Homo sapiens: one gene and its partners. The protein of the gene in region 1 purifies or fractionates together with the protein of each later gene. This does not show direct contact. Each region holds a gene or a part of one and is shown in the gene's direction. Other genes may lie near its edges. The genes, in order: DNAAF10, WDR4, PPP3CB, ECD, CRCP, RPRD2 and RPAP2.

What was found.
Region 2: the proteins of DNAAF10 (region 1) and WDR4 fractionate together in Homo sapiens (co-fractionation; one large-scale study listed by BioGRID). This does not show direct contact.
Region 3: the proteins of DNAAF10 (region 1) and PPP3CB fractionate together in Homo sapiens (co-fractionation; one large-scale study listed by BioGRID). This does not show direct contact.
Region 4: the proteins of DNAAF10 (region 1) and ECD purify together in Homo sapiens (affinity purification with mass spectrometry, with the first as the bait; one large-scale study listed by BioGRID). This does not show direct contact.
Region 5: the proteins of DNAAF10 (region 1) and CRCP purify together in Homo sapiens (affinity purification with mass spectrometry, with the first as the bait; one large-scale study listed by BioGRID). This does not show direct contact.
Region 6: the proteins of DNAAF10 (region 1) and RPRD2 purify together in Homo sapiens (affinity purification with mass spectrometry, with the first as the bait; one large-scale study listed by BioGRID). This does not show direct contact.
Region 7: the proteins of DNAAF10 (region 1) and RPAP2 purify together in Homo sapiens (affinity purification with mass spectrometry, with the first as the bait; 2 studies listed by BioGRID). This does not show direct contact.

Annotation. Positions count from the first base shown.
Region 1 is NC_000002.12:68,140,528-68,144,027, reverse strand, and holds part of DNAAF10 (dynein axonemal assembly factor 10), read left to right. Parts: intron 1-2,232; coding exon 2,233-2,334; intron 2,335-3,500. UniProt on the Homo sapiens protein: Key assembly factor specifically required for the stability of axonemal dynein heavy chains in cytoplasm.
Region 2 is NC_000021.9:42,876,740-42,880,700, reverse strand, and holds the start of WDR4 (tRNA (guanine-N(7)-)-methyltransferase non-catalytic subunit WDR4), read left to right. Parts: upstream 1-1,161; 5' UTR 1,162-1,205; coding exon 1,206-1,294; exon of another isoform or gene 1,295-1,537; coding exon of another isoform or gene 1,538-1,614; exon of another isoform or gene 1,615-1,709; intron 1,710-3,933; coding exon 3,934-3,961. UniProt on the Homo sapiens protein: Non-catalytic component of the METTL1-WDR4 methyltransferase complex required for the formation of N(7)-methylguanine in a subset of RNA species, such as tRNAs, mRNAs and microRNAs (miRNAs).
Region 3 is NC_000010.11:73,440,525-73,444,024, reverse strand, and holds part of PPP3CB (serine/threonine-protein phosphatase 2B catalytic subunit beta isoform), read left to right. Parts: exon of another isoform or gene 1-236; intron 237-3,500. UniProt on the Homo sapiens protein: Calcium-dependent, calmodulin-stimulated protein phosphatase which plays an essential role in the transduction of intracellular Ca(2+)-mediated signals.
Region 4 is NC_000010.11:73,158,009-73,161,508, reverse strand, and holds part of ECD (protein ecdysoneless homolog), read left to right. Parts: intron 1-957; coding exon 958-1,075; intron 1,076-3,500. UniProt on the Homo sapiens protein: Regulator of p53/TP53 stability and function. Inhibits MDM2-mediated degradation of p53/TP53 possibly by cooperating in part with TXNIP. May be involved transcriptional regulation. In vitro has intrinsic transactivation activity enhanced by EP300.
Region 5 is NC_000007.14:66,145,847-66,149,346, forward strand, and holds part of CRCP (DNA-directed RNA polymerase III subunit RPC9), read left to right. Parts: intron 1-3,500. UniProt on the Homo sapiens protein: DNA-dependent RNA polymerase catalyzes the transcription of DNA into RNA using the four ribonucleoside triphosphates as substrates.
Region 6 is NC_000001.11:150,474,607-150,477,066, forward strand, and holds the end of RPRD2 (regulation of nuclear pre-mRNA domain-containing protein 2), read left to right. Parts: 3' UTR 1-1,960; downstream 1,961-2,460.
Region 7 is NC_000001.11:92,323,059-92,326,558, forward strand, and holds part of RPAP2 (putative RNA polymerase II subunit B1 CTD phosphatase RPAP2), read left to right. Parts: intron 1-386; coding exon 387-1,317; intron 1,318-3,500.

The DNA of each region.
Region 1 (3,500 bases):
TTCACGAGGGGTACATGAGAAATTTGGTACCTATTATAATTGATTTGGCTAGTTGTTTAATGGCCGCTCAAGACCATGAGGAAATTGCTTTAAAGGAAAAGTGAGATATAATTTTCTAGTGGGTACTCAAGAGCAGCTGTGTTTTAGAAATCACTTATTTTTTTTAATCATAAAAGCAATATTGAGTATAGAGGGAAAAATAACATTCAGTCTACCACACTACCACAACCATTAGATTTTTCTTTTCCTTTTAGGTCTTATATATAATTTTGCATAGTTATAAGTGTGAATATGAATTTGTATCTTAGAAACTTTTTTTATTTAATGTTTTGTCATATGCAAATGTTGCTGTTTCCACAGTTATCATTTTAATGACTATATAATATTCCATCATATGGCCGTACTTAACCATTCCCTTATAAGCCTTTGGTTTGCTTTTTTTATTTGTTGTCTTATGAGAGTGGCTTAAAAATAATGAGTAAATGAGTATTGTCATATGTGTAACTCTTTTGGAATAAATATATTTTATGATTTTTTAAAAAATTTATTGGGCCAGGTACAGTCACGCCTATAATCCCACAACTTTGGGGGCTGAGGCGGGCGGATAACTTGAGACCAGGAGTTTGAGACCAGCCTGGGCAACATAGCGAAACCCTGTCTCTTCTAAAATACAAAAATTAGCCAGGTGTGGTGGCACACACCTGTAATCACAGCTACTCAGGAGGCTGAGACACAAGTTTTGCTTGAACCTGGCAGTGGGAGGTTGAAGTGGGCTGAGATCTTATCAATTTGTATGAATCCTATAGAGAAAGATAATCTCTTATCTCTATATCTGGGATTTTTTTTTTCTTTTTAAAACAGGCTTTTGGTGGGTGCAGTGGCTCATCTCTGTAATCCCAGCACTTGGGAGGCTGAGGTGGGAAGATCACTTGAAACCAGCTTGGGCAACATAGGGAGACCCCATCTTTACAAAAACTAAAAATTAGCCAGGCATGGTGGTATAGTCCCAGCTACTTGGGAGGCTGAGGTAGGAGGATCACTTGGACCCAGGAGGTCAAGGCTACAGTGAACCATGATCGCACGACTGCACTCCATCCTGGGTGACAGAGCAAGACCCTGTCTCTAAATAAATAAATATTAAAGTAAAGCAGCCTTTTAATGATCAACTTTATTTTATCCCTGGAGATAAATCTAATGTTGTACCTCCACCTTTCCTGAGTTGTTTTCCTTTTAAGGATTTTTTTTTTTTTGCCCTTTTCTTATTCTCAGGTACTTGCCTTTTAGCCATTTTATTACATGCATTTGCATTTTTTGTAGGTAGTGACACTATTTTAGTAAGTAGTCCCATAACATGAATTAAAACAAGGGGGTTGAAATTAAATTGAGAATTTGTTAATTTTATTTAACATTTTCCTCTTCACTATTGCCACAGGAAAATTAAACTTAACTGTATATGAAATAGTATTCTAGGCCAGGCACAGTGGCTCACGCCGGTAATCCCAGCACTTTGGGAAGCCCAGGCAGGTGGATCACCTGAGGTCAGGAGTTTGAGACCAGCCTGGCCAACATGGCAATACCCCATTTCTACTAAAAAAGTACAAAATTTAGCTGGGCGTGGTGGTGCATGCCTGTAGTCCCAGCTACTTGGGAGGCTGAGGACGGAGAATCGCTTAAACCCAGGAGGCGGAGGTTGCAGTGAGCCAAGATCACGCCATTGCATTCCTGGGCGACAGAGTGAGACTCCATCTCAAAACAAAAGAAAGAAAGAAAGAAAAAGAAATAGTATTCTAGAACTCACATAAGAAACCATTAATTCAAAATTAGAGTGTATTCATGCCAATGGTTAAAATGGGTAATAAGGAAAAAAGTAAAAATTAAAACAACACTGGTATTTTCCCTAAAAAATAACACATTCATTTTAGGCTCATGATTTGAATTACGTAACATTCACATTTGCCTTGTCAGTCATCACTCGTAGATAACTTAGGAACACTTGTTGGCTTTTCTGTGTGTCTATTAATTTGGAAACCAAGTCAGATAGTTACATATGGGTGATATCTCTGATATTAAATACAACTTACCCAATTAGAAGTCAGAACAATGTGGATATTTTCAGATGTCATAACATCTGTCATATTGCCATGTACACAGGAAGCCATAGAAGAAGAATGTAGAAAAGAAACATAATCATTTACTTTTGAATTTTTGCCAACTCACTTTTATGCATGGCAGGAACTGTGAAGGTGTGGGACCCAAGGCAAAAAGATGATCCTGTTGCTAATATGGAACCTGTACAAGGAGAAAACAAGAGAGACTGTTGGACTGTGGCATTTGGTAAATTATTGAAGAATTCTTGCATTTGAATTATCAGATGGTAAAAAGCACGATGCTGCAAGAAATTTCACAGTAGTCTCTTTATGGTCTGTTTTGTGGATTATTCTAATAGTTTACTGAGGCAAATACACGTGGTGGTTAATGTCAGCCTCTGGGGCCTGAGTTTGAATTCTCACCTGCTACTTATTGGCCATGTGGCCTGGAGCAAGTTACCAAAGTTATCTGTTCCTTGGATGTTTCATTTATAAAATGGAATTAATAATAGAATTTACTTAGTTGTGTTGTCATGAAGAGTCAATGAGTTAATTACATGTAAAGTGCTGAGAATTGTGCTTATTATTATGTGTTCCTGTTTAACTAGATAATATTGACCTAATTTAAAGTCAGACACCATTAATGGGGATAAACCAAGCCTCAAATGCAAACAGTTACCTAACAAATCATACATTACGCTATATACGGAGTATGTTTATTTTCTAGAAAATAGTTTGCCATTACAAAGTTATTTCTTATAAATTTTGATAACTGTATTCCTTCATTAATTTACTTAAAATGAATATTGACTTTGGAAGACTAATTGACATTTGCCCTTTGATATGGTTTGGATCTATGTCCCCACCAAATCTCATGTCCAATTGTAATCCCCAGTGTTGGAGGTGGGGCCTGGTGGGAGGTGATTAATGGGGGCGGAGTTCTCATGAATGGTTTAACACATCCTCCCGTATACTTTAAATCATCTCTAGATTACTTATAATACCTAATATAATATAAATGCTGTGTCAGTCATTGTTGTATTGTTTAGGGAATAATGACAAGCACAAGAAGTCTGTACGTTTTTAGTGTAGATGCAAATTTTTTTCCAAATATTTTCGATCCATTGTTGGTTGCCTATAGATGCAGAACCCATGGATAGGGAGGGCCAACGGTAGAAGAGAGTAATAGTAGGAATATCCTTAGAGATGGCTCAGGACAATGGCCAGAGGTGTTAGGACGGCCTGAAGATAGTTCTAAGTTTTTGATGGTGTTTGCAAGGAAGAGATGAAATCCGAGCTTTAGGAAAATGAACTAGTGGTATTTAGCGGGAGTGATGAGTGGTACAGAGAATATGAGTTCAAGAGCTCTTTGCAGTATTCCAGGGAAGACCTAAGTTACAAGCACTGAGAAGG
Region 2 (3,961 bases), on another chromosome or scaffold:
AAGGAGGGACACCCAAGAGGGCAGAGGCAAGAGCTGTGCTGAGATACAGCCTGGGGAGATACTCCCAGGAAGCAGAACTCGGGCCTGGTTAAGACTTCTTATTCTTGTAGGGCCTGAAAACATCTTCCAGTAGGATTTCAGAATTGCTTTGGACCAGTGATTACTGTGTCTCCTCCTCTTCTCATTTTCACATGCAAGTATTTATTGTGGTTATCTGGTCCCGGCTCACCATCATATATTGCGTGCACGGGAGAGAAAATTAATCTTTTTAGTTTGTAAGTCTCTGGATCAAGAGGAGCTGCACCGGACAAGCCAATCTAAAACAGACCGTGAGATCCTAGATTTTGTGCCTGATGCTGGGATTGTAAGAGGCTTTTGGGGATCTTGGGATGAACACTGGAAACTAACCATAGTTTGGGTTGAAAATATCACTACAGTTCGGAGATTTTAAGGCATCTGTGGCTTGTCTAAGTGCAAAGATTCAGTAGGCTTACTTCTAGCGACCTCAGACTTGACGCCACCCGAGACACCCTCACCCATGACCACATCTTGGACATTTTTTTTTTTTTTGAGAGAGAGTCTCGCTCTGTCGCCCTGGCTGGAGTGCAGCGGGGGCGATCTCGACTCACTGCAACCTCCGCCTCCCGGGTTCAGGCAATTCTTCTGTCTCAGCCTCCCAAGTAGTTGGGGCTACAGTCGCACGCCACCACGCCCAACAAATTTTTGTACTTTTAGTAGAAACGGGGTTTCACCATATTGGTCAGGCTGCTCTCGAACTGCTGACTTCATGTGAGCCACGGCCCCCGGTTCATTCACTTCTTGAAGGATCATTTACCAGGCATCTAGTAGCCATCATCAGGTCCTACGTCTCTCCAGCTACCGCGGAAAAAGATCCAGAACCAGCCCTACCCCGTCTAGAGGAAAGGATGAACATTAGGCAAGTACTTGGAATCGTGCGAAGTGCACTCCATCAGATCACCTTGGTGAGTGAACTGCCAAACCCGAAACACCGAAGGCCACCAGCCACAACCCGGAGGGCGGTCACAGCACCTTTCACGCATGCTCAAGGCAGGCTCGTCCTTGAGCATGCGCGGTACGTGGGGTATACGTCATCTCTCGGCGTCTGCGCCTGGCGTCACCGACCGGTGCGGACAGGAAGAGGCTCTGGGCTGGCACATGTGTATGGCGGTGAGGCGGGCGGGTACATGGCGGGCTCTGTGGGACTGGCGTTGTGCGGGCAGACGTTGGTGGTGCGGGGCGGCAGCCGATTCCTGGCCACCTCCATAGCAAGCAGGTGAGGGGGCCTTGGTCTTGGAACAGGGAGACCAGGCTGCGGGCGCGCGTCGGGTCCTGGCGACCCCGCTTCTCCCGCACCGCCTGGTCGCACCCACTCTGGGGTGACCCCGGGGAACTCCGCTCCAGCCCACGAGTCCTCCGCCGCAGTCTCGGCCTGGCCGCGTCTCTGCGCCTGGAGGGTCCGCTTTCGCCGTCCGCTCTCGGCGTCCGCTCCCCGGCTCCGGCGCGCTCCTTGCACTAGATGGCTGGTCTGCGGTGTTCTTGCCCGGTTAGCGCCGCCGGGTCGCTTCCGGTCTCCGCGGCGCCGGCGGGGACCGGGTAGGTAGAGCACGTGGGGCGACGCTGACCAGTCAGCAAGGCCCGGCCGAACACGCTCTGCAGAACTGGGAAGAAGCGGGTCTCGGGTCTCCCTGGTGAGAAGGGAGGGGCTTACTCACTGCGAGCTCACTGACCTCCAAGCGCGCTCCCTCTTTTTGCAGGGTTGTCTGTTCCCTCTTCCCGGCCTGCATCCACTCACCTGGCCTTAATTGCTCCTTAGGGCTCCAAGTCATCTCCGACACTTACCCAACCCAAGGGTGCACGTGGAGCTCGCAGTGCGCACCTCCCTAGTGGCCCTTCGCACGGCTCGGGTTTTGCTTTCCGTAATTTTATTCTCCTTCCTTAGTGTATCGCCAGTGCTAGGACGACGCAGGGGATTTTTAACTTAGTAAATGTTTGTTGATGGAACAGTCCTAACTCAGGACTCTCGGAGCAATTAGTAGTGCTGTCAGTTTCAGCCCCTCGTTTCCTTTCCCAGGTTATTTGTGATTTCATATTTGAAACGGACGACGTGTCTGTCAGATATACTGTATATTTTTTGTTCGTTTGGTTTTAGAAAGCCAATTCGATGTTAAGTTAGGTCTCACAAAAATTGTACTCAGAAACCCGTCACATATCCCAGATGATTTTGTTTTAGAGACTCACGGTCTAATATCTGCCAGAGTGAGCTGTGGATATATTAGACATGATTTGCTTACCTTCAGTCTTTGCATTTTGAGGAAATTCTAGTGGCTGGTGGAGTTTCTGACTTGGAAGACAAGTCCACGGTTCCATATGGAAAGTTTTTTGGTGCACTCGCTTTAAAGGCTATAAATATGTACAAGATACGTGCCAGGGGGTGAGGATGGGATAAACCGAAGTTTAGGTTCAGTATGGAAAATGGGTGATTCTTATGTTGGTAAGTGCCTGGGGTCATGGGAACACTTTCAGGTAGGTGAGATATGTTTCTAAATAGTAATGGCTCTTTGAAATTTGTATACAGAATCCCACTGAACGCTCAACAGTATCAGAACATAATTTCTTTTTTTTCTTTTTTTTTTTTTTTGAGGAGTCTCGCTTTGTCGCCCAGGCTGGAGTGCAGTGGCGCGATCTTGGCTCACTGCAAGCTCCGCCTCCCGGGTTCACGCCATTCTCCTGCCTCAGCCTCCCGAGTAGTTGGGACTGCAGGCGCCTGCCACCATGCCTGGCTAATTTTTTATATTTTTAGTGGAGATGGGGGTTTCACTGTGTTAGCCAGGCTGGTCTCGATCTCCTGACCTCGTGATCCGCCCATCTCGGCCTCCCAAAGTGCTGGGATTACAGGCGTGAACCACCGCGCCCGGCCCGTAATTTCTTATAACCATGTCGCATAGATTTTGTGGTGCCTAAAAGAATAGCATATTAATTCCTGTTGAGTATTTATCCCTCATTTGTTTTACTGAACTTTTTTTTCCCACAGAACTATGCAGTATGACGTACTCCAATAAGAGATTAAGCAAATAAAGTTTGTTAACTGTTCCCTGAAATATTGTATCTAGACAGTTTTCTTGTCAAGTATACAACTTTTAATTTAATGAGTGTGCAAATATTTTTTGTTCCACAGAGAAAAAAAATCAACTTTTTTTTTTTTTTTTTAACAAAGTGCTCTTTTAAAAATCATTGTTAGGCTGGGCGCAGTGGCTCTGCCTATAATCTCAGCACTTTGGGAGGCTGAGGCGGGCAGATCATCTGAGGTCAGGAGCTTGAGACCAGCCTGGCCAACATGGCGAAACCCCGTCTCTACCAAAACTACAAAAATTAGCCAGGCGTGGTGGCAGATACCTGTAATTCCAGCTACCGGGAAGGCTGAGGCGGGAGAATTGCTTGAATCCAGGAGGGGGAGGTTGCAGTGACCTGAGATCATGCCCTTGCACTCCAGCCTGAGTGATAGAGCGAGACTCCAACTCAAAAAAAAAAAAAAAAAAAAAAATTAGGGCCAGGCGCAGTGGCTCACATGGGCCAGGCGCAGTGGCTCACACCTGTGAGCACTTTGGGAGGCTGAGGTTGGTGGATCACCTGAGGTTGGGGATTTGAGATCACCCTGATCAACATGGAGAAACCCCGTTTCTACAAAAAGTAAAAATTAGCTGGGAGTGCTGGTGCATGCCTGTAATCTCAGCTACTGGGGAGGCTGAGGCAGGAGAATCGTTTGAACCTGGGAGGCGGAGGTTGCGGTGAGCCAAGATCGTGCCATTGTACTGGAGCCTGGACAACGAGAGCGAAACTCCGTCTCAAAAAAAAAAAATTTGTTATTTCTCTCTAATGATAACTCCTTTTAAAATTATTGTTATTTCTCTTTAGTGATGATGACAGCCTCTTCATCTATGAC
Region 3 (3,500 bases), on another chromosome or scaffold:
AATTACTCCATCAGACACTTGTCTGTCTTGCAATGTAGAAGCAGCTTTGTAGCACCTTGTTTTGAGGTTTGCTGCATTTGTTGCTGCACTTTGTGCATTCTGAACATGAATGTAACATTAGATATTAAGTCATTGTTATAAGGGGTTGAATTTAAATCCTGTAAGTCAAAATTGAAAGGGTGTTATTAAGTGTGCCTTTATTTTGCATGAAAATAAAAAGAATTATACGTAAAGCATTCCTGTAATCTGGCTCATTGAATATTTTATACTTAAAAAACTTTTTTTGGCGTAAATATTTGTGTAAATACTGGGTTAACTTTTTAAAAGCCCATTACAGATTAAATAGAAGAGAGTGATGTGAGTATTAGTGACCATACACAGTAATTCAGTCTAGATTTCTTTTCCTGTGGTTGGAAAGCAAAAATACATGATGTGGAAAAGCCTGAATTTCTTGTAGTCACTTTTGACAGCCCTCTAAGGGTCATTGTCTATTAAAATAGCAACAGATCTGATGTTTTCCTTAGTCATAATTAGGTTTCTTTTTGGTGTTGTAATTAGTGACTTTTTTAGAGGGAAAAAAATAGGCAATTTTAACGTTTTGAATGAATTTACATTTGACTTCACAATTTCATTTCACTTGGTTCCATAATAAGTGCTCTTTTTTTTTCTTTTCTCTCTTCTCTTCTCTTTCTTTTTCTTTCTTTCTTTCTTTCTTTCTTTCTTTCTTTCTTTCTTTCTGTCTTTCTTTCTTTCTTTCTCTCTCTCTCTCTCTCTTTCTCTCTCTCTCTCTGTCTTTCTTTTTTTGTGTGCATGTGTACATGTGTGTGTGTGAGAGAGACAGACAGGGTCTGGTTTCTTGCTGTGTCACCCAGGCTGGAGTGCAGTGCAGCCTCAACCTCCTGGGCTCAAGCAGTCCTCCATTTCAGCCACCCAAGTAGCTAAGACCATAGGCACATGCCACCACAGCCAGCTAATTTTTTTTATTTTTTTTATTTTTTATTTTTTTATATTTTTGTATTGCCCAGGCTGGTCTCAAACTCCTGGGCTCAAGCAATCTTCTGACCTCAGCCTCCCAAAGTGCTGGGATTATAGGCATGAGCCACTATGCCTGGCCAATGATTGCTTTTCAATAAAAAAAATTTTTTTCCTGTAAACAATTTTTACTTGTAGCCTATACATGTTCTATTTTAAATGTCATTGTATTGTTCACTACCACCACTGGTATATCTGAAAAGTACACTGTGTTTTGAAATTATAAATTTTCATTCTGAATGAGGTTTCTTTTTTTGATTTTCTTTAAAAAAAAAAAACAACCTGCTTTGATTTGCTTTACATTCCTTGCCCTCCATTTTTCTTATTATATTGTAAACATTAGAAAAATGAACTAAAAAGAATTTCATGAATGTACATTAAAACAAGATCTTAAACATTTGATAAAACTAGTAAAAATGTTAATAGAAAAGGATGAACTTTAATAGCTTCAAAAATATTATACTCTTCTTTGTTCAGAAAAGAAAAATAAAACCAAAAGGGTATCATACTTAAATAAATCTACAGTATAGTCATCTCTCAGTTATCCTTGGATATAACATTACTTTTATATTGTATCCGCAGCAAACCTTGCTTTCAGATTTCACGATTAGCCCCTGCTAATTACATGCTTTGTTGACTTCTGTTTATTCTTAATTTGTACACGGCTTGAAGCTCATTCCTTCAACTTTGAAACCACCCTCAACTGCAGGGGAGGTTTGAAAGACAGCAGCTTTGCTGGAGGGACTCTCTATTCTCAGCATGGACTAAGTTACTGGAAGGAATTGAGTTTAAGGGGTCTAATTTGGGACCCCTTAAACTAGATAGCTTCTAGTTTTGCTAGCTCTTGATAGTGTGGTTTGGGCATTTGGTCAAAATTATTTTCCTAGCATAAGATAAATCCACTTTGAAACAAATAACAAAGGTCATACAAAAGCTGCATGTTTGTGATTATTTTTTAAAAAGTTATCCTACATTTTAAATTTTAGTAGATAATGTTCCCTGATGTTAGTGTGTATAACTGAGAGTTAGGTATTGCAAAAGGAAAAAATTTTAATTCTAAGACCTCGTGCCTATTTGTCAGAAAATAAAAATTGTCGTTTCAAGAACTTTAAAAGTTAATTTACATGATGTTTCTTGAGTGTTTTTACAAACTGCACAACTCTATTGGAGGTGGATTTTCTGTTCATCTTTATTTTATGTATGTTTTCTTTCTGGGAAATTTGATTGGGAGCTAGCACTGTAATGCTACCCTCACCAGGATCTATATGGGAAATATATGTGGCCAATTCTATGTTAGTAATACCAAATTCCTCTTGGTCATTTATCTTGCATAGTACTGAGGAACACAGTTTGAGATAGCACTATGCTCAAACTTATTAAGGCCATGACAAGATGCCCTATATAACTGAAAACAAATAGAGGAGAAATAGTGCCTTTCAGATAGAGTGTTGCAATTAGCAATCTGGGCTCAAGTGATCTTCCTGCTTCAGCTTCCCGAGTAGCTGGGATTACATATGCACACCACCATGCCCGGCTAATTTTTTAAACTTTTTTTGGGGGGAGATGAGGTCTCTCTATGTGTTGCCCAGGCTGGGCTCAAACGCTCAAGGGATCCTTCCACCTCAGCCATCCGAGAGTGCTGGGGTTATAGGCATGATCTTCCATGTCCTGCCCGATTTGTAATGTAGTTTAACAGTTAAGGAAAATTAACTCTTCCTTTATTCAGTGTTCGTCCTAATTCTTTTGGGTCCCCAATTCACTTTACTGTCTGGTTAAGATCAACATTTTCTAACTTAGTTCACTTTAATACCTTAGATTCATCAGTTTCTTTTACATTAATAATTGCTTTGGATAAAATTATTTCTAAATCATGTTAATTGCTAAAAGATCACTTCAGGAATAATTATTCTAATTGGCCTTATTGCAGAAGAAGCAAAATAGGAGAGACCAGGGCATTACTTTTACAAATATTCTGAGTAATAAGGGGAATGGACAATATTGTAAACCAGTATTGTTGTGTGCTATCTTGAGTCCTGGTCCTCAGTGTGAGCTCTTTATACAGTTCAAACCCAGAAATGAGCGAAAAAAAGAATCTTTGACTATAAAATGTTTGACTAATTATGGTGAAATTCTCTAAATGGACCAGTGACACACTATACCAATAATGTATTTCTTATTTATAATATGACCTATGTGTCTATATCATGAAATAATTAGAATTTATGCCTGTAAGACCTCACTTCTCTTCCTTAATGTCTCTTTAATTGGTAGATGAGTTTGAAAAGATGCTCAGTAGTCTTTTTCTGAGGCAAATTTGAGTTCATGATAAACTCTGTCAGTATAAATGGAATTTTTTAAGGCTATAGATGTTAGTATCTGTAGGTATTTGGAACATCAGTACTAGAATAGAAAGGAAGTTACTGGTAGACAGGAGAAGTCCTTTCAGGTCCCCCACAAAGAACAGAGCC
Region 4 (3,500 bases), on another chromosome or scaffold:
TTCTCATGATCCAGTCTTGACAGGTTGTGTTTCTAGGAATTTGTCAATTTCTTATAGGTTATCCAACTTACTGGTATACCATTGTTCATAGAATTCTCTTATCCTTCTTATTTCTATGACATAAGTTGTACTGTCCCCTCTTTCATTTCCGATTTTAGTTATTTGAGTATTTGCTCTTATTCCTGGTTAATCAAGTTAATAGTTTGTCAATCTTTTAAAAAAAACCCAACTCAGCTGTTTTGTTTTTCTATTATTTTTTCTGGTCTCTATATTTCTCTCTGCTGTAATGTTTATTATTTCCTTCCTTATGCTAGGTTTGGGTTTAGTTTTTGTTTTTTTTTTTTGAGGTATAGGTTGTTGATTTGAGATCTTTCACAACTACAAACTTCCTTTTTAGCACTGCTTTCACTGAATTCCTTAAGTTTTGGTATGATGTGCATTCATTTTCATTTGTCCCAAGATATTTTCTAATTTCCCTGTGATTTATTCCAAGAGTGTGTTGTTGTTTAGTTTCCATGTGTTTGTGAATAGTGCACATGTTTGAAAACTTCTGCTCCATCCAAATCTAGCGTCCTGGTATTCCCAGAATACTCTATACATACATACTCTATACATCATGCCTCTGTGCCTTTGCACATACTTTTCCATTTTTCTGGAAAGCTCACCTCTTGTCATTCCTCCAGGCAAGCATAGCACAGATATCCCCTCCTTTATACTCACATAGCCGTTACTGCACACTCCTGTTCTAGAGTTCATTATCTTGTTTTGAGATCATTTGGTTGTCTTGTTTTACCCTGAGCTCCTCAGGAGTAGGCTTCTTCTTCAGGATTGCAACCCCTGCTCCCCAGTACTTAGAGCAATCAGTCAATGAATGTGTATTCAGTTGAATGATTATGTGCATTTTATTTGCAGTAACAAATTTATCTGGTTACATGGTTGCTTTTCTCTTGTTTTTAGGAGGTGTTCCTGCTCATATGTTTGGCGTGACAAAGTTTGGGGATAACATTGAGGATGAATGGTTTATTGTTTATGTAATAAAGCAGATCACAAAGGAATTTCCAGAGTTAGTAGCAAGGTATTGTAGTTATTTTAATTATTCTAAAGGAATTCTATTACTGAAACAAAGTGACTACATTTTTATCTATTTAGTAATTTATTTTTCTCCTGTAGTCTGCTGGAAATTGTACAGATTTTAATAGTATCTGTGCTCTTTTTTTTTTTTTTTGAGACAGTCTTGCTTTGTCACCCAGGCTGGAGTGCAGTGGTGTGATCTTGGCTCACTGCAATCTTCACCTTCCGGGTTCAAGCGATTCTCCTGCCTCAGCCTCCCAAGTAGCTGGGATTACAGGCGTGCACCACCACGCCTGGCTAATTTTGTATTTTTAGTAGAGACAAGGGTTCACCATGTTGGCTAGGCTAGTCTCTGGAGCTCCTGACCTCAGGTGATCCACCCACCTTGGCCTCCCAAAGTGCTGGGAATACAGGCGTAAGCCACCGCGCCCAGCCATATCTGTGTTTTCTTTCTCTTCTCTTGTGGCTTCCTTTTCTTGAGAAAGAATTAAAGTACACGGCCAGGCGCGGTGGCTCACACCTGTAATCCCAGCACTTTGGGAGGCCGAGGCAGGCGGATCATTTGAGGTCAGGAGTTCGAGACCAGCCTCAACATGGAGAAACCCTGTCTCTACTAAAAATACAAAATTAGCCAGGCATGGTGGTACATGCCTGTAATCACAGCTACTCGGGAGGCTGAGGCAGGAGAATTGCTTGAACCTGGGAGGCGGAGGTTGCGGTGAGCCGAGATCGCGCCATTGCACTCCAGCCTGGGCAACAAGAGTGAAACTGTCTCAAAAAAAAAAAAAAAAAAAATTAAAGTACTGTCAAAGAGTTCAACTTCCAAAAGATTTCAAATAAAACCTACTTATTTTAGGTTTTCTTTTTAAAGTTCTAATTATGAAAAAACAAATACATGTGGTAAACAAAATTCAAAAGATACAAAGGTTTCTACTGCTCTTGCTTCCCAGAAGTAATCACCATTAAATTCCTTGTGGATCTTTGAAAAATAAAATTCCATTCATACACATACACACATATTTCACGTATTTTTAAATATGTATTCCTGTACTAGACCATAGCTATATTTTTTGAGAAATCATACACAGAAACAATTTAAAGAGAAGTCAGTGAACACAATTGTATAGGAAGCAAAGTAGGTAACATTACGTTAAAAATGGGACCTGGGTTTTCTGTAATTAACCACGTATTGCCAGCAGAGGGCGTTCCGCCCACTTATATTTTGTCCTAGTTTTCCTAGTCAGCACCCAAATTCTGATCTTTTTTTACCCACTCAACCTCTTTCCCAACAGAACAAAATAGAAGGGAGAAAAAAACCTTTGAAAACTTATTATTTAAATTTTAAACATACATTAAAGTAGAAAGAATGAACCCACATGTTCCCATTATCCAGCTTCAACAATTACCAACTCATGGTCATTATTATTTCATCTGTAGCTGTCATTTGATCCTTAAATATTTCAGGATGTAAATCTAAGCGATAACTCATTTTATTTTTATCTTTAAATAAATTTATTTAAAATTTTTAAATGTTTTAAATTTATTTATTATTTATTTAGTTTTTTAAAGACGGGGTCTTACTATTTTGCCCAGGCGGGACTTGAACTCCTGGGCTCAAGCCATCCTCCTGCCTCAGTCTCCCAAGCAGCTGGTACTACAGGCACATGCCACTGTGCTCTATTTTATTTTATTTTATTTTTTTGAGACAGGCTCTCACTCTCTTGCCCAGACTGGACTGCAGTGGAACAATCTCGGCTCACTGCAACCTCTGCCTCCCGGGCTCAAGCAATTCTCTTACCTCATCCTCCTGAGTAGCTGGGGCTATGGGCGTGCACCACCACACCTGGCTAATTTTTGTATTTTTTGTAGAGACAAGGTTTCACCATGTTGGCCAGGCTGGTCTCAAACTCCTGACCTCAAGTGATCCACCTGCCTCAGCCTCCCAAAGTGCTGGGATTACAGGTGTGAGCCACTGCGCCCAGCCTATTTTTAAAATTGATAAATAAAAATTTTATATATTTATTATGTATAACATGTTGTCTTGAAATACATATATATTGTAGGATGGCTGAATTGAGCTCATAACGTACATTACTTCACATACTTATTTTTTTGTGTGTGGTGCGAACATTTAAAATCTACTGCCTTAGCAAGTTTCAAGAACACAATACATTGTAGGCCTGGGGCGGTGGCTCACATCTGTAATCCCAACGCTTTGGGAAGTCGAAGCGGAAGCATCACATGAGGTCAGAAGTTCGAGACGAGCCTGGCCAACATGGTGAAACCCCATCTCTACTAAAAATACAAAAATTAGCCATGTGTGGTGGCCCATGCCTGTGGTCCCAGCTACTCGGGAGGCTGAGGCAGGAGAATCACTTGAGCCCAGGAGGTAGAGGTTGCAGTGAGTGTGATTGCACCACTACATTCCA
Region 5 (3,500 bases), on another chromosome or scaffold:
TGTCCCCACGCCCACCCTTCACCCTGCTCTTGCTTCCTCTCTTTCTGGGTGAGGGGAGCATGTGTGCGCTGTCCCATCAGCTCCCTTCCTTGCTCATCTCCTGGCCTGGCCTCCCACGCCGGAAACCTGCAAGCCATTCTCTTCCTTTCATCTCACAGTCAGGGAGTCCCCAAGTTCTGTTGCTTCTGTCTTCGTTCTTGCTTCTCTCCCCCGTGTACTGCGTTGATTTCTGCCATTATTTCTTCACGCGGCTCTTGCGGTTATCCTCTCCCCATTCTCCCTGGCTCCCCAAGTCCATCTCCCACATCACCGTCAGAGATCACATCTAAAACCATGAATGTGATCCCATTTCCCTGCATAAACCGTTTATTTAGTACAGCCTCATCACTTGTGAAGTCCGCTTTGTACTGAGAGCGTAGGCTTTGGAATAGGAGGAGGCAGCCAGAGTAGAGGGGCCTACGATGGGATAAGGGGCCCGGGAAATGATCCAGGGAGATACCCGGGCCACCACTGGGCACGCTGTGGCCGCTGCCTTCTTATTACAGGGCAGAGAGCATCGGTACCTGACAAGTGTTAAGCAGGCCGTCTAATTGCCAGTTTAAAAAAAAAAAAGAAGAAGAAACTTTAGAGAATTAACAAAATGAGAATAAAGCAGTTTCCAAAGTCAGTTTTAGAAATACTTAGCTCTTTGTCAAATTTCCTTTAGAAAAGTATGGAAGAAAATGGTCAAAAATACGATTTTTAGAGTTGCTAATGGAAAAACTTTTTAAAAGGCCACAGGGTATTTAATTTTTTACTAAATTGTTCATTGTCTTCCTAGGGTTGTTTTTGCCCTTCAGAATGTACCCAAAATTAAATTAGAACAGTTCCTTTCATGAAGGGTGCCTTTCTCTGGGAACCCGCCTGTAGGCTAAATAGAAACCCCTTTCTCATGTGTCCTGATTATTTTCATGCTTTACACTGTATTGGAGTTTCAACCTAGAGCTTAGAGGAGAGAAAAAACAAACAGAACAGCAAGAAACGAATCCCTGTCCCTCTGGGTTAAAGATCATATGTCATGTCTCCTCCAGCTTTAATCAGCAACATATGTTACTCATGGCTTAATGACAGGCAGAGAGAAGAGATGAGGATTAGTGTGACCTCAGCCAGAGCCTGTGGAAAGTGGTATCATTACTTGGGGGAAGATTTGCTGCTATTGAGAGTGCCTGGGGTGGGCCGGGCGCGGTGGCTCATGCCTGTAATGCCAGCACTTTGAGAGGCCAAGGTGGGCAGATCACCTGAGGTCAGGAGTTCAAGACCAGCCTGGCTAAAGTGGTAAAACCCCATCTCTACTAAAAGTACAGAAATTAGCTGGGCATGATGGTGCACACCTGTAATCCCAGCTACTTGGGAGGCTGAGGCAGAATCACTTGAACCCGGGAGGCCAAGGTTGCAGTGAGCCAGGATTGCACCACTGCACTCCAGCCTGGGTGACAGAGTGAGACTCCATCTTGGGAAAAAAAAAAAAAAAGAGTGCATGGGGTGTGCCAGACACGGTCTCAGTCCTTGGTCCTGGTGCCTGTGATTGTCTGTCACTTCGAATGCCCGCCCCATAGTCTTGGAAGGGGGCAAGTGTCCTCTCCATTTTAGCCCAGAGGGCTGGTGAGTGGCTGATTGGGACCTTCTGATTCAGAAGCTTTACTTTGCTCCTCCAAGCCAGGTACTTGTGCTTGATGAGAAGAAAGATGTGTGTGGCATCCCCTGAGATGGTTTCCTTCTCGTTTCTACAAAGTAGGTAGGCCTTGGTAGAAACTGCTGTTTCTCAGTAGTTGGACCATTTTATAGCCAGATTCTTCCCACTCTGGAATTTGGCTACAAAAGGTAGCAAATTGTTTACCAAGGTTTGTAGCAGTATCGCTTCTCACCAGAGTGAATAAGAAATGAAAGCTGTGGCCGAACATGGTGGCTTGCGCCTGTGATCCCAGCACTTTGGGAGGCCAAGGTGGGAGGATTGCTTGAGGCCAGGAATTCAAAACCAGCCTGGGCAACATAGTAAGACCCCATCTCTACAAAAAATGAAAAAAATTAGCCAGGTATGGTGGCGCACACCTGTGGTCCCAGCTACTCAGGAGACTAAGGTGAGAGGATTGTTTGAGCCCAGAAGTTCAAGGCTGCAGTGAGCTATGATAGTGCCACTGTACTCCAGCCTGTGTGACTGAGCAAGAACCTGTCTTTTAAAAAAAAAAAAGCAAATGGCTGGGCACGGTGGCTCACGCCTGTAATCCCAGTACTTTAAGAGACCGAGGTGGGTGGATCACCTGAGGTCAGGAGTTTGTGACCAGCTTGGCCAACATGGCGAAACCTCATCCCTACTAAAAATACAGAAATTAGCTGGGCATGGTGGCGGGCACCTGTAATCCCAGCTACTTGGGAGGCTGAGGCAGGAGAATCGCTTGAACCTGGGAGGCGGAAGTTGTAGTGAGCGAAGTGTAGTGAGCGTGACTGCACTCCAGCCTGGGCGACAAGAGCGAAACTCCTTCTCTAGAAAACAAAAGGAAATAAAAGGTTTCACTTACAGTGGCAAGCACAAAGGACTTGAGTGAGAAGTTCCCTATATTAACACTAGAGCCATTTTTTCTCCCTGGGTTCAGAAAACAGTCCCAGCATCCAACATTTATTAGCATTCACTTGGAAGCCAGGTGTCTTTTGGAGGCTGAAGCCTCACCTCTTCAGTTACGCCTGGGCTGTGATTTGCTGTGGCCCTCTGATGACTGCCTGCTGACTCAGAGGCTCGGTGAGGAAATGAGGTGGCCACCCAGCTTAGGACTTGTTGTGCCCGGTTGTGTATTGATTTGGAATGATTTGTGAGCCCTCCGGCCTGAGGTCAGTGAATCCTGTGACCTCACAGGCCACTGCCCTGAACAGCACTACCATCTAGGCCTGTTAGTGATTTCGTGATTATGAAGTCTTGACTCATATAGAGCGTTATTGCTTGTAAAACACTGTTACATGTGTTCTCCTTTTGTCCTCGCTGTAGGCGTTACTTTCATTTTACATTAGAGAAAGTTGAAATTTAGAAAGCCAGATTCAGTGAACTGTTCTGGATCAAATATTTAATAGTATACATTGTTGCTATCAGATCTTTGAATCATTTTGAGGAAAGTAGGACTTTAGGTTTGGCGACTTCAAGTTGCCATTTTTGGAGGTCGGCAACCCGGTTTGATGCTCCTGGGATTGAGATAATAAATGTATCATTTATGTTAACCCAGCTGTTGATACTTTGGATTTTTAAGTTTTATTTCCCCTTATGTTCTCAACTACCTGAAATGGTTGGTATCTGAGAACCTTGAGATGGTGCTTTGAACTTTACTTCTTTATTTGGACTGTTTCTCCTGTGTTGGAAAGAAAAGGTGAAAGGCCGGACACAGTGATTCATGTCTATAACCCCAGCACTTTGAGAGGGTGATGTGAGAGGATCACTTGAGCCCAGGAGTTCAAGACCAGCCTGGGCAACCCCATCT
Region 6 (2,460 bases), on another chromosome or scaffold:
GTACTTGGGAAATAGACAATCACTGTACTTTGAGTGTTTATATCTTTATATCTAGGGACACTGAAAAGTAAATGTTGCTTTACTACAATTTTTTTTTAATTTAGTGTCTTACCCCAAGGCATACTCAACTGATAATCTCCAGCTAGATGAGTAAAACAGTATGTGTTTAGTTTTCCAGAGAATTCTGGCAAGTTTCATATTTTCTTCCAAGTTAGTATAGAACTAACTATAGGAAGTATGGGGTTGCTTTTTCCTCCAGTAGAATATTAAAGATGGGGGAGGGTGGGCAATGTAGTGACAGAAAATGATTCTCTCAGAATGAACTTTTCAGAGAAAGAGCAGCATAAACCAGGTGCACATCATGATTTGGGAGTTTTTGCGTAATTTATTCTGTTATTTATTTGGGCTCGCCATGTGTTCTGGGGTTAGGATGCTGCAGGTCATTCATCTTCTTAATGCCTGTCTGGTCTTAAGCCAACTGTTCTTTCTTTCCTCGACCCTCTCTGCCCTGTAGCTCTCCCCACAAAAATGCATGATACCATGACCTTACGTGTGGGATGGGGTATGTAGTGTAGCAAAGAAAAGAAAGTATAGTTATATTGAGTCCTAAGACATTTGTTAGGGAAAAGCATAAGAGAAAATGGGGTGGGAGGTGGGGAAATGATATTTGACTTTCAAAATTGAAATAGGTTTTTTTTTTGCAGAAATTAAATGGGATGTTTTTCATTCTAGAATAAAAGAATGTGAATTCTCTTTGCTGCTCTTGTTTAAGCTAAAAGTAGTGTTTACTTGATAAGGCTCTCTGACCATTTAATTTTTATCAGAAAATGTGGGGATGTCAGGAAAGTGGCTTCCTGAACGTTGGGGCGGGATAATTGTCCTCAAAAGTATGATGGTTAATACATGAAAGGAAGACTTTGTTGGACAGTTTCGAAGGTGGGCTTTTAAGGAGTTGGGTTTTTGTGGGGTACTTTTTTGTTTTTTAAGCCACAAAATCCTCAATATGTTTGTTTTAGGATGGAAGTGAGGATTTGTATGAGACTGTCAGCTATTAATTTTAAGGAAATCTTAAAATTTACATTTACATCAGTAAATGAAGATGACAGTGTGTATATATGTGATAAATAGTGAAACAGAAAAGACAGTTCTGGTATTCATAACGTGAAAGAAAGGGGTTTTATTCTTTCTGTGTCTGTGATTTAAAACTCCGTGACCATGCTCTGACTTTTGTATTTCAACCTGAGTTTAAACAAATAAACAAGATATTTTTTAAAGAAAGCATAACATAGTGTGTCTTAGCAAGGACATGATTCATATGGAAGCAGAATGTGAGAAGTTGTAAGGTCCTTGGTACTCACTGTAAAATCACAGACAGAGAATTGGTAGGGGTTGTGAATACACTAGTACCACTTAAAGTTCAGTGATACAGTTCAGAAATAGGGTCCTTAAGTATTTTGAAAGAGTTTACTCTTCAGTCAGCTTAGATGAGAGCTCTCTCCCTGCTCCCCTCTACCCTCTCAAAAGTTGAGAGTAAATAGAATTTGGTTTGATTCCAGGGAGGGGAAAATAAGCAGAGAATAGGACTTTTATACTTTCCAATACCAGGAATAAAATGTTTGTGATATATATGGGTCCAGCAAACCTATCGAGATAATGTGAATACGATAAACTTCCTAATGGCAGGATATTCACTCTCAATCCTGAAGTTACCGGTTCCTGCAGAATTGAGCTTCAGCTGTTACTGTTTTGAAGCCGCTGTAAATTACTGCTTTCCCCAGTTCCCCCACTATTTTTTTTAAGTGGGCGGGGGCGCCTGTTAAGATCTAAAATAGATATGTTGGATTGATATTCTCACGTGTTCGGTGTGGAAAACAAAACAAGTACATGCTTTAGAAGCAACAACAATGAAATCCTTTTGAAATGTGTGTTAATATCGTTTAATAAAATAACTAGTTTGAAAGGTTTGACATTTTTCTTTGAGACGGGCTTGGACCAGGGGCCCCTGGCTTCCTAGTGAGTGCAAATAGGAGGGAACTTCTCAGGAGCTGAAACCGCTGCTTTGTGGAGCAGGCCTGTGGTTGGAAAACCTAAGTTTTCTCTAGCAAAGACCCAGCCTGACTGTCCAGGGCCGAAGGTGAAACCAACTAGAGAATGCAGAAGGAAAAGCCTGGATATATCTCAGAAGATATGGTTGTATTGGCTTTTGGTCCAAGGGTATGGGGGTGGGAGTAGTGGTGTGTGCGCCCACACATTTCTCAGGCACACACAGAGATACCACAGACCACCCACTTCGTAACCACTTGCACTTTACTCTCTTCCAGACGTTCCTTTTTTTTTTAATCCCTTTGTCCCCATTATTTTGTTTTCCAGTTTAATAAAGTATGGTTTCCTTTGTTGTGTGGTTGACTTTTCCCCTCCTGTTGATCTTTTCCAGATGTCCCCTTTGACTTCTGCACTTAA
Region 7 (3,500 bases), on another chromosome or scaffold:
TACTTTATATATATATTTATATATATATATATATTTGCAACAACAGGCAAATCCAAATAGTGCAGTAGGATAGCATTATCAAGTTTTTTAAAAAGTTTTGCTGTACTCCTGTAACAATTTTAAAATAATTGGGGGAAAAAGATGAAGGAAGAATACAGAAGGAGAACTATATCAAAAAATATATTATTAACAGATGTACTGAAATTATAGGCTTCTTCTGAAATTTATATATCAGAACCTAGAAATAAGGTTTTGTCTGGGGAATAAAAATTTCTACCTTGAAAGTTACAATGTATAAATACTATGGGGTACTTTACTTTTCTATTGTTTTCGGGTTTTATTTGCTATTTTTTATTTAGTTATTTTATTTCTCTTTCATTCTACAGTGGCCATTCTGGAGAAGAAGTACAGTTATGCAGTAAAGCCATTAAAACATCAGATATCGACAATCCTAGCCACTTTGAAAAGCAATATGAATCTAGTTCTTCTAGCACTCACAGTGATAGTAGCAGTGACAATGAGCAAGACTTTGTTTCCTCCATTCTACCAGGAAACAGACCAAATTCAACAAATATTAGACCACAGCTGCACCAAAAAAGCATAATGAAAAAGAAAGCTGGTCACAAAGCTAACTCCAAACACAAAGACAAAGAACAGACAGTAGTAGATGTCACTGAGCAGTTAGGCGATTGCAAATTAGATAGTCAGGAGAAAGATGCTACATGTGAACTTCCTTTACAGAAAGTAAATACTCAGAGTTCTTCAAATAGCACTTTGCCTGAAAGATTAAAAGCGTCAGAAAATTCTGAAAGTGAATACAGTAGGTCAGAAATAACTCTAGTAGGCATAAGTAAGAAAAGTGCAGAGCATTTTAAGAGAAAATTTGCCAAATCAAACCAAGTGTCTAGGTCAGTGTCTAGTTCAGTGCAGGTGTGTCCTGAAGTTGGAAAGAGAAACTTACTTAAAGTTTTGAAGGAGACTTTGATTGAGTGGAAGACAGAAGAAACATTGAGGTTTTTGTATGGCCAGAATTATGCTTCTGTGTGTCTGAAACCCGAAGCCTCTCTGGTTAAAGAAGAACTTGATGAAGATGACATAATCTCAGATCCAGATAGTCATTTCCCTGCCTGGAGGGAATCTCAGAACAGCTTGGATGAGTCTTTACCTTTTAGGGGCTCAGGTACAGCCATTAAACCACTGCCAAGTTACGAGAATTTGAAAAAAGAAACTGAAAAGTTAAATCTGAGGATCAGGGAGTTTTACAGAGGACGGTATGTTTTGGGTGAAGAAACCACCAAATCACAAGACTCAGAAGAGGTATGTCTTACAGACATTGAGTTTTTCCAGATCGTTAACATTTGGAAAACTCACCACAGCAAATCTTGGAGCAGGAAGGATATTGAAGAGTTAATTGTTAAATTTTCAAATAGTTTCTTTAGTCATTCTGCCTTTTGGTTTACAGTGCCATCTCCACTGTTGGCATTACTATTTTACAAATAAGTTGACGTTTACCCCTAGCAAATTTTCATCAGTGTGCAATATTTTTTTCTAATGTAAAAATAGCCTAAAATGGTGGGACAAAGTTTTCCCTAATTCTTCATACAATAAATGAAGCCTCTGAAGAGGCTTGCTTTTTCTTCTTCGGTATTCTTTCAGATTTTTACATGGGGTCTGTGTGTGTGTGTTTAATGGAAGTATATGCCATGGAATAGACTTGGTAGTTACATTGGAAAATATTTAGCAAGCATGTCCATTGAAAACATTACAGATCAAAATAGTTTGTAAAAGAGACTTATTGGGAAATAATGGACAAAGAGAATGGAAAGCACATTCAGATAGACCTAGATTTGAACATCTGTTGTGTCATTTACTAGCTGTATGAAAAATTAGTTTCTTGGTCTGTTTGCTCATCTGTAAATGGAACTATTAATAGCTTCTCTTGCTCAATTGTTATTTGTTTTAAAGATAATGTGTATAAAGCATTTATCACAGTACATGACATATAATTGGTACTCAGTAAATAGTACCCATATGTAGAGATTGAAAATGTGCCACTGAGATTTAGAGAGCATCTTTTAGTATTTCTACTACCCATCTTTGATTGATGTATACTCCCTGGAAAATGAAGTCATTTAACATGAAGAGGAATGGGTAATAACCTTGTTTTTACCACAAAACTTTGTTCTCAAATATTCCTAAGTAAATGTGGCTCTAAATTTAAAAGCACATTGGAGATTTGGAAAGAGGGTAGAAGTAGAAATGTAGTAAAAAATTTAGAAATATATTTCTATAGAGTGTTGCTTGGCCCAGCACCCTACTTCAAATCATTTCAAGTATCTTATTAGACATCATCCAAAACTTATATTAAGCTAGGAGAAACATTGATCTCTGTCACTGAGCTGCATAAACCTACCATAGAACATCACTTATTTTATCATTTTGTCCTTTTTAGCCTTAAAAAGGAAAAAATAATCCCTGAAATTTGACTTTTAAAAATTTATAACATTTTCCAAAAATGTTACATAACATGTTAAAACATTTCCATTGAAGTACAACACAAATAGTAATTATATGATTTCTTGAGTATTCACATATGAATGTCCTGATGTAATCACTACCCAAGCCAAGAAATAGGTCATTACAAGTAAACTAGAAGCCCCATATATATCCCCTCCTAATCAGCACCTCTTTCCAAAATTAATATTATATTAGCACAGATTAGTTCTGTCATTTTTTTTCCAGTATATATTCTTGGTGTCCAGTTTATTTCATGCAATATTATACTTTTGAGTCATTTGTGTTGTTGCATATAGCTGTAGTTCATTCTTTTATTGCTGTATAGTATTCCATTATATAAATATACCATTTATTTATGCTAATGGACATTTAGACTATTTCCAATTTGGGGCTATTATGAACAATATTCTTAGGAACTTTCTCGTATTTATCTCTCTGCTAATATGCGTATGTATTTCTGAAGTATCTAGGACTGGGAATGGTGGGTTATCGTATATGCATATATGCAACTATACTAGATAATGCCAAACAGTTTTCCAAAGTGGTTGTACCGGTTTACAGTTCCACTACTACTATATGGGAGTTTCCTTGATTCCATGTCCTCCCTGGTACTTGATATAGTTAGTTTTAGCCATTCTGGTAGTATTGGTTTATGATTATAATACATTACTGTGATGATGAATAAATTCAGCACTATTTTATTTGCTTATTGACCACTTGGATAATCTCTTAGGTCAGGTCTGCAGATCTCTCAGCCATGGATACCAGCACCTGCTCTGGTGGAGATGGCAGGGGGGTGAAATGGATTCTGTGAGGATCCTTGCTTTTGGTTGTTTAATGTACTATTTTTGTGCTGGTTAGCCTCCTGCCAGAAGGTGGCACTTTCAAGAGAGCATCAGTTGTGGTAGTATAGGGAGGATCAGGCTGTGGGTAGGGCCGTAGAACTCCCAAGAATATATGCCCTTTGTCTTCAGCTACCGGAG